Linked DNA regions of Homo sapiens. Each later gene encodes a partner of the first gene's protein in a complex. Each region holds a gene or a part of one and is shown on either strand. Other genes may lie near its edges.

Evidence for each region. Proteins that work in one complex are often made in the same cells at the same time.
Region 2: the proteins of EP300 (region 1) and NUTM1 are in contact, whole or in part, in an NMR structure (PDB 7XFG), measured with the Homo sapiens proteins. Residues at the interface, in NP_001420.2 of Homo sapiens: Arg1731, Ser1734, Ile1735, Arg1737, Ser1757, Lys1760, Met1761, Val1764, Ile1781, Lys1783, Gln1784, Leu1785, Ile1786, Ala1787, Leu1788, Tyr1791, Lys1794; in NP_786883.2 of Homo sapiens: Tyr405, Pro406, Asp407, Pro408, Gly409, Leu410, Leu411, Tyr413, Ile414, Glu416.

Annotation. Positions count from the first base shown.
Region 1 is NC_000022.11:41,099,092-41,102,591, forward strand, and holds part of EP300 (histone acetyltransferase p300), read left to right. Parts: intron 1-3,500. UniProt on the Homo sapiens protein: Functions as a histone acetyltransferase and regulates transcription via chromatin remodeling. Acetylates all four core histones in nucleosomes. Histone acetylation gives an epigenetic tag for transcriptional activation.
Region 2 is NC_000015.10:34,346,315-34,349,814, reverse strand, and holds part of NUTM1 (NUT family member 1), read right to left. Parts: intron 1,847-3,500; coding exon 1,138-1,846; intron 1-1,137. UniProt on the Homo sapiens protein: Plays a role in the regulation of proliferation. Regulates TERT expression by modulating SP1 binding to TERT promoter binding sites.

The sequences.
Region 1 (3,500 bases):
TCTTGCTCTGTTGCCCAAGCTGGAGTACAGTGGCGTGATCTCGGCCTATGACAACCTCCGTCTCCCGGCTTCAAGCGATTCTCCTGCTCAGCCTCCGGAGTAGCTAGGACTACAGCTGCGCAGCACCATGCCCGGCTAATTTTTGTATTTTTAGTAGAGACAGGGAGTCCTGACCTCGTGATCCACCCACCTCGGCCTCCCAAAATGTTGGGATTACAGGCATGAGCCACCGCGCCCGGCCTGTTTTTGTTTTTCGTGGATATACAGTAGTCCCCCCTTATCCTTGCGGGATACATTCCAAGATCTCCAGTGGATACCTGAAACCCTGTATAGTAGTGAATATAATTGTCATCAGTCAGAACACGTTTCTGTCCGTGTCTTCCACACACAAATTTAATGCCTTTTCCATCTTAACTAATCACTTGTCATGCACTGTGGCTGTGATGTTTGCAGTTTGAGGTACAACAGCAAAACTATCACGAATTTTTTTCCTTCACAATTTCATGTATAGATTTGATCTTTGTAACCTCCGCATACAATTTTTTTTCATTCCTTATTAAGTCAAGAACTTTCACCTTCAAGCAATTTACAGCTTCTCTTTGGCATATCCATATAGCTGTCATTGCTACTTTTGGACTTAGGGACTGTCATTAAGTAAAATAAGGGTTACTTAAAACTCAAGCATTGCCCTGCCCCATAGTCAGTCTGACAATCTGATAACTGAGATGGCTACTAAGTGACAAATGGCTGGTAGTTTATACAGGTGAATACATTAGACGGAGGGGAGATTCACTACCCGGTCAGGTGAGATTTCATCAGGCTACTCAGAATGGCGCACAGTTTAAAACATTGTTGTGGCTCACGCCTGTAATCCTGGCACTTTGGGAGATTGAGGCAGGAGGATTGCTTGAGGCCAGGCATTCAAGACCAGCCTGGGCAATGTAGTGGGACCCCCCATCCCCCCACCATCTCTAGAAAAAAAATTTAAAAAGTCAGCAAGGCATGGTGGCATGCATCTGTAGTCCTAGCTTCTTGGGAGGCTTAAGGTGTGAGGATCTCTTGAGCCCAGGAGTTTTGAGGTTACAGTGAGCTATGATGACACCACTGTACACTCCAGCCTAGGTGACATAGCAAGACTCTGTTTCTAAAACAACAAAAATTAGTGTTTATTTCTGCAGTTTTCTTTGTAATATTTTTGTACCACAGGTGTTTGAAATGGCAGAAAATGAAACGGGGTAAGGATGAACTCCTGTATAGATAGACTGGATAAAGAGAAAGCCAAGTGCATGATGTTCATAGAGGAGTCTTAAGAGTAAGCCTTATGTCATCTATCCAAATGTTGTTTTCTAGGAGTATAAGAATATAGGAACAGAGCTTAAAATGGAAAAATACTGTACAGTTAGCCTTCCGTATCTGAGGGTTCCGTGTTTGTGGAGTCAGCCACAGATTGAAAATATTTAGGGGAAAAAAATCCATGGTTGCATCTGTACTGGACATGTACAGACTTTATTTTCTTGTCATTATTCCCTAAACAATACAGTGCACCAACTATTTATGTTGCATTTACACTGCATTAGGTATTGTAAATAATCCAGAAAGAATTCAAAGTATATGGGTGGGTGTGTGTAGGTTATATGCAAATACTACATGTCCCCTTTATATCAGGGACTGGAGCATCCTCAGATTTTGGTATCTGCAGTGGAGGGAGTGGATTCTGGAACCAATTCCCAGCAGATACCAAGGGACAACCATATATATATAGTATCATGACATCTTGTATCATGTCACGTATATATATATCATATATATTATCATGTCACGTATACAAGACATCTTATATATCCTATCATGTAAGATGTCTTGTATACGTAAGTAATAGAAATGAAAATCAGCAGATAGTTAAGGCATAATGAGAAAATGGAAAACATTGTTCTTGTTAGAAATGTTTAAGAATGGCTTCTTGATAAAGAACTGTGTTAAGCATATTCTTTCTTCTTTTTAGACACAGAGTCTCACTCTGTTTCCTAGACAGGAGTGCAGTGGTGCAATCCTGGCTCACTGTAGCCTCCATCTCCTGGGTTCAAGCTATTCTCCTGCCTCAACCTCCCAAGTAGCTGGGATTACAGGCACCTGCTACCATGCCTGGCTAATGTTTGTATTTTTAGTAGAGATAGGGTTTCACCGTGTTGGCCAGGCTGGTCTCGAACTCCTGACCTCAGTCTGCCCACCTCGGCCTCCCAAAGTGCTGGTATTAGAGGCGAGAGCCACAGTGCCTGGCCAATTAAGCATAATTTTTTCTATTTTTCATTTTCTTACATGGATCTTTTTTTTTTTTTTTGAGACGGAGTCTAGCTCTGTCACCCAGGCTAGAGTGCAGTGACACGATCTCGGCTCACTGCCAGCTCCGCCTCCTGGGTTCATGCCATTCTCCTGCCTCAGCCTCCCTAGTGGCTGGGACTACAGGCACCCGCCACCATGCCCGGCTAATTTTTTGTATTTTTAGTAGAGATGGGGTTTCACCATGTTAGGCAGGATGGTCTCGATCTGCTGACTTCATAATCTACCCTTCTCGGCCTCCCAAAGTGCTGGGATTACAGGGGTAAGCCACCGTGCCCAGCCACCTGGGTCTTAAAGAATAAATTTTCTTGAGATGGAGTCTTGCTGTGTTGCCCAGGCTGAAGTTATCCTCCTGCTTCGGCCTCCTGAGTAGCTGGGATTGCAGATGTGAGCCACTATGCCTGCCTCTAAGAAACTTTCTTATAAAGGAGGAAGAAGAAAAGTAGCAGTGCAGTGCTCCAAAGAATTTTTTTACAACACTTAAGGAAGAACTACCTTTAACTTGTAGCACTAGAGACTCTGTTTCAAAGAATGCACAAGAATACTTACCCTTATTACTTGTAATATACTCTCATATTTTCTGTTGCTTTTTTTTCTTTTCTTTTTTTTTTTTTTTTTAGTACTGGTTGCAGCCTACTATATTGATTTTTATGACCCACTGTTGGCTTTTGAGCCATAATTTGAAGAATACTGGCGTAGAAGAGTTGACAAGATGGCAGTTATTCTGTATTAGGCCAACATTTTCTGTATGCCAGGAACTTATCCTCTGTACATTGTTCCTTCTTTCCTTCCTGGAGTTTATAGATAAGGGAAGAAGACTGGCATTCACGGAGTCTGGTGTGATCAGCATTGTATTTGGGAAGTACGTATATAGTGGGAGGAACAGGAGAACCTAACCCAGTAGTTATCCTGGTGGCTGTCTTTGAGGAATTGTGTCTGATTTTGGGATCTCACAGATAGAGATAGGATTAGTAAAAATGAGCCCAGGCTAGAAAGGAGACTGTGTGAGGCCAGGTATATCCTGTTCTGGGAACCTGTGAGTGCTGTCTGACTGGTAGAATAGCCAAAAACTTGACTGTAGAGGTGAGCAAGGGGGCCAATCATGGAGGGCTTATAATACAGGAATTTAGACTTTCCATTTTACCCATTTAATGGATGGGGCA
Region 2 (3,500 bases), on another chromosome or scaffold:
TGCCTTGAGAAAGCAGGGAGCCTGAAGACGCTGTACATCTAGGACTTTGGGGGAACATCTTGATTCATTTGCTCCAAGTTCGGGGTAGAGGGATTCCTTTAGGAGTTCAGCCACTGGAAGAGCACCATGTACATTTGTTTAAAGCAATAAAATGTGGTATGTGTTATATAGCGGCTTACACAAAATGCTGAGGGCACAGGGCAGTTGAGAGGGACAGTGGGTCTGGGTGGGAAGGGAAGACTGTTCCCCAGCTGAGGAATGACTGTTTTGTAAACAAAACAGCCTAGGACCCTGGGCTCCTTGACTAAACACACACTCGCTCTTAAGCAAGGACGTTTTGACCTTTTGCGAGTTCTTTTCCTCTTCTAGATGGCCTTTTTAGGATAATAATAAAACAGTTGACATTTAATGAAACATTCTCTGCGCCAAGGACTTCACATATATTAACCCATTTAATCTCCTCAGCAACTCTGTGAATTAGGTATAGTTATCCCCCTTTTTAACTGAGAAAACTGAGGGCAAAGATGTTAAATGTCCTGCCCAGGATCACAAATCTAGTGAGTGGTAGAGCCATGCCCTTGACCACTAAGCAAGCTCTACCCACCACCCTATTTCAAAGTGAATTCTCCTGAATAAAATGAGTGGAGGGAGCAGAGGGAGCAGCACACACAAAGTCCTTTGCCTGGCCCCACACTGTTCCCCCTGCCACCCAGGGCCCTGAGTTAGGGTCCAGCACTCATCCTGGCTAGTTTGGATAGTTCTGACTCAATGTCAAAAGGTAGTAAAATAGAACGGGGGGAGGACCCTGGCACTTAGAGTGAGAGACCTAAGTTCCAATCACTGGTCCTTGGTTTCAGTCTTCTTATCTGTAAATGAAGATTACCAGAGGAAGGCTTGCCTGAACTCACAGTGTGGTGAGGATCACTTAAGATAAGACACCTGAAAGGTTGTTATAAACTAGGAAGTGGGTTAAGAGGCTGATTATTATTATTAATATGTTTTTCATTCTCAGAGCATCTCCCTTGCCCTCATGACCTTCCCTCAAGTAGTCCTAAACAGCCTAAACTACTATGTTCACCCCAAAGTCCTCCTTATTTAAAAGCCCTAGAATAATTAATCTCCGGTCTCCCCACTTACATAAGAAAACAGGAAAGAGCTTCTGTGTCAGGACTCTGGGATAGGTGCCTCCGGGCCAAGGCTTTGTAACGCTGCCACTGACGGAAGTTCTCATAAACGTCCTTGGAAATTTTGGAGCGGTCACCTAGGGAAGGCTTGGATAGAGTGGCCACAGGACCTCCTTCCCCGGTTGTCCCATGTGGCCCTGGCCAAGCTTTTTCCAGGGGCACAATGGGGACCAGTTGAGCAACTGGTGGTGGAGGCTGAGGCGGAAGGCCTGGAGGACCCTCCTGGCTGACACCAACAGCCTTAGAGGGCAGAATGGTCTTCACATTAGATGCTGTCACAAATGGAGGTGCAGGACCCTCAAGGCCTCCACAGGGAGTGCCCGGGGCAGTCGAATTGAGGGCAGTCTGAGTAAGGATAAAGTTCTGAGTTTGAGAGGGCTCAGCTGACCCCCCTTCTGTCTTGACTTTGACAATGACCTTGCCAGCCCCAGCCCCACTGAGGCAAGGGCCCCCATCCCCTGTCACCAACAGTGAGCTGGGGAAAGCAGAGAGCATCAGAGGGTTGTCTGGAGAGAATACTGAAGGCATGATGGGCTGTGGAGGTGGCTCCCTGGGTGGGTGGTCTGGTGGGTCAGAAGTTGGTGGGAGAAAGGGAAGTGCAGGGGATGGAGACGGGGCGGCACTAGGTTTCATGCTCATATCCGGTCCCGGCAATGCAGATGCTGTTGAGACAAAGAAAAAGAAGAAATGGAGTAGGAGAAAAGAAGACCAGAGTTAGCCATCTGAATTCCCCATTTTTTTATTTTTATTTTTATTTTTATTTTTATTTTTATTTTTTGAGATGGAGTCTCGCTCTGTCGCCCAGGCTGGAGTGCAGTGGCACAATCTCGGCTCACTGCAATCTCCGCCTCCTAGGTTCATGCCATTCTCCTGCCTCAGCCTCCTGTGTAGCTGGGACTACAGACGCCCACCACCACGCCCGGCTAACTTTTTGTATTTTTAATAGAGACGGGGTTTCACCGTGTTAGCCAGGTTGGTCTCGATCTCCTGACCTTGTGATCCGCCTGCTTCGGCCTCCCAAAGTGCTGGGATTACAGGTGAATTCCTCCTTTATTTTTAAATTTTTTTGTAGAGGCCGGGCACGGTGGTTCATATCTGTAATCCCAGCACTTTGGGAGGCCAAGGTGGAAGGATTGCTTGACTCCAGGAGTTTGAGACCAGCCTGGGCAACATGGCAAAACCCTGTCTCCATTAAAAATACGAAAATAAGCCAGGTGCGGTGGCATGCACCTGTAGTCCCAACTACTTGGGGGGCTGGGGTGGGAGGATCGCTTGAGCCCAAGAAGTTGAGGCTGCAGTGAGCTGAGATTGCGCCTCTGTGCTCCAGCCTCGGTGACAAAGGAAAACTCTGTCTCAAAAAAAAAAAAAGAAAAATTGTAGAGATGACGTCTCGCTATGTTGCCTAGGCTAGGCTCAGACTCCTGGCCTCAAGTGATCCTCCTGCCTCAGCCTTCCAAAGTGCAGAGATAACTGGTGTGAGCCACCACACCCCATCTGAGTTCTTCTTTAGACCCGAAGACTCAAAGCACTGATTCTCAACAGGTGAAAGAGGGGATATGGATGGGGAACTTGCATAGTTTGCAAATGTCCCCCAAGTGATTTTGATCTTACTTCTCGTTGAGAATGACTGCATTAAAGAAGTTGCTTCTTTTTCAACAAGACACACAGACCCCTATCTGCCAAGAAGAGACAAGCCCAAGCCATCACTGCCTCTAAGTGCTGCTTTTTTTTTTTTTTTTTTTTTTTTTTAGATGGAGTCTTGCTCTGTGGCCCATTCTGGAGTGCAGCAGCACGATCTTAGCTCACTGCAACCTCCGCCTCCTGGGTTCAAGTGATTCTCCTGCCTCAGCCCCGCAAGTAGCTGGGATTACAGGCACGAACCACCACATCCAGCTAATTTTTGTATTTTTAGGACATACGGGGTTTACGCCATGTTGGCCAGGCTGGTCTCAAAAACCTGACCTCAGGTAATCCACCCGCCTCGACCTCCTAAAGTGCTGGGATTACAGGCATGAGCCACCGCACCCGGCCCAAGCAGAGGCAGTTTATAATACATTCCAGCCTAGTTTTCAGGAAGGCATTTCTCTGCAACAGATAACTACAGATTATCTTTTCCCACTAAGGTCCTTCCCACCTTACCCTCCCATCCTCCATCCTCCACATCCCCTTCCCCTCATAAGCTCAAGCATGGCAAAATCCTAGAACAGGCTCCAGTTGCCTAAAAAAGACAGATGAACTTGGGCCTTCCCCCTTGAAACCTCTCTGTGCCAGTCCTAAGACACATACCCCTGATCCTCTCTCCCACCACAAAAACAC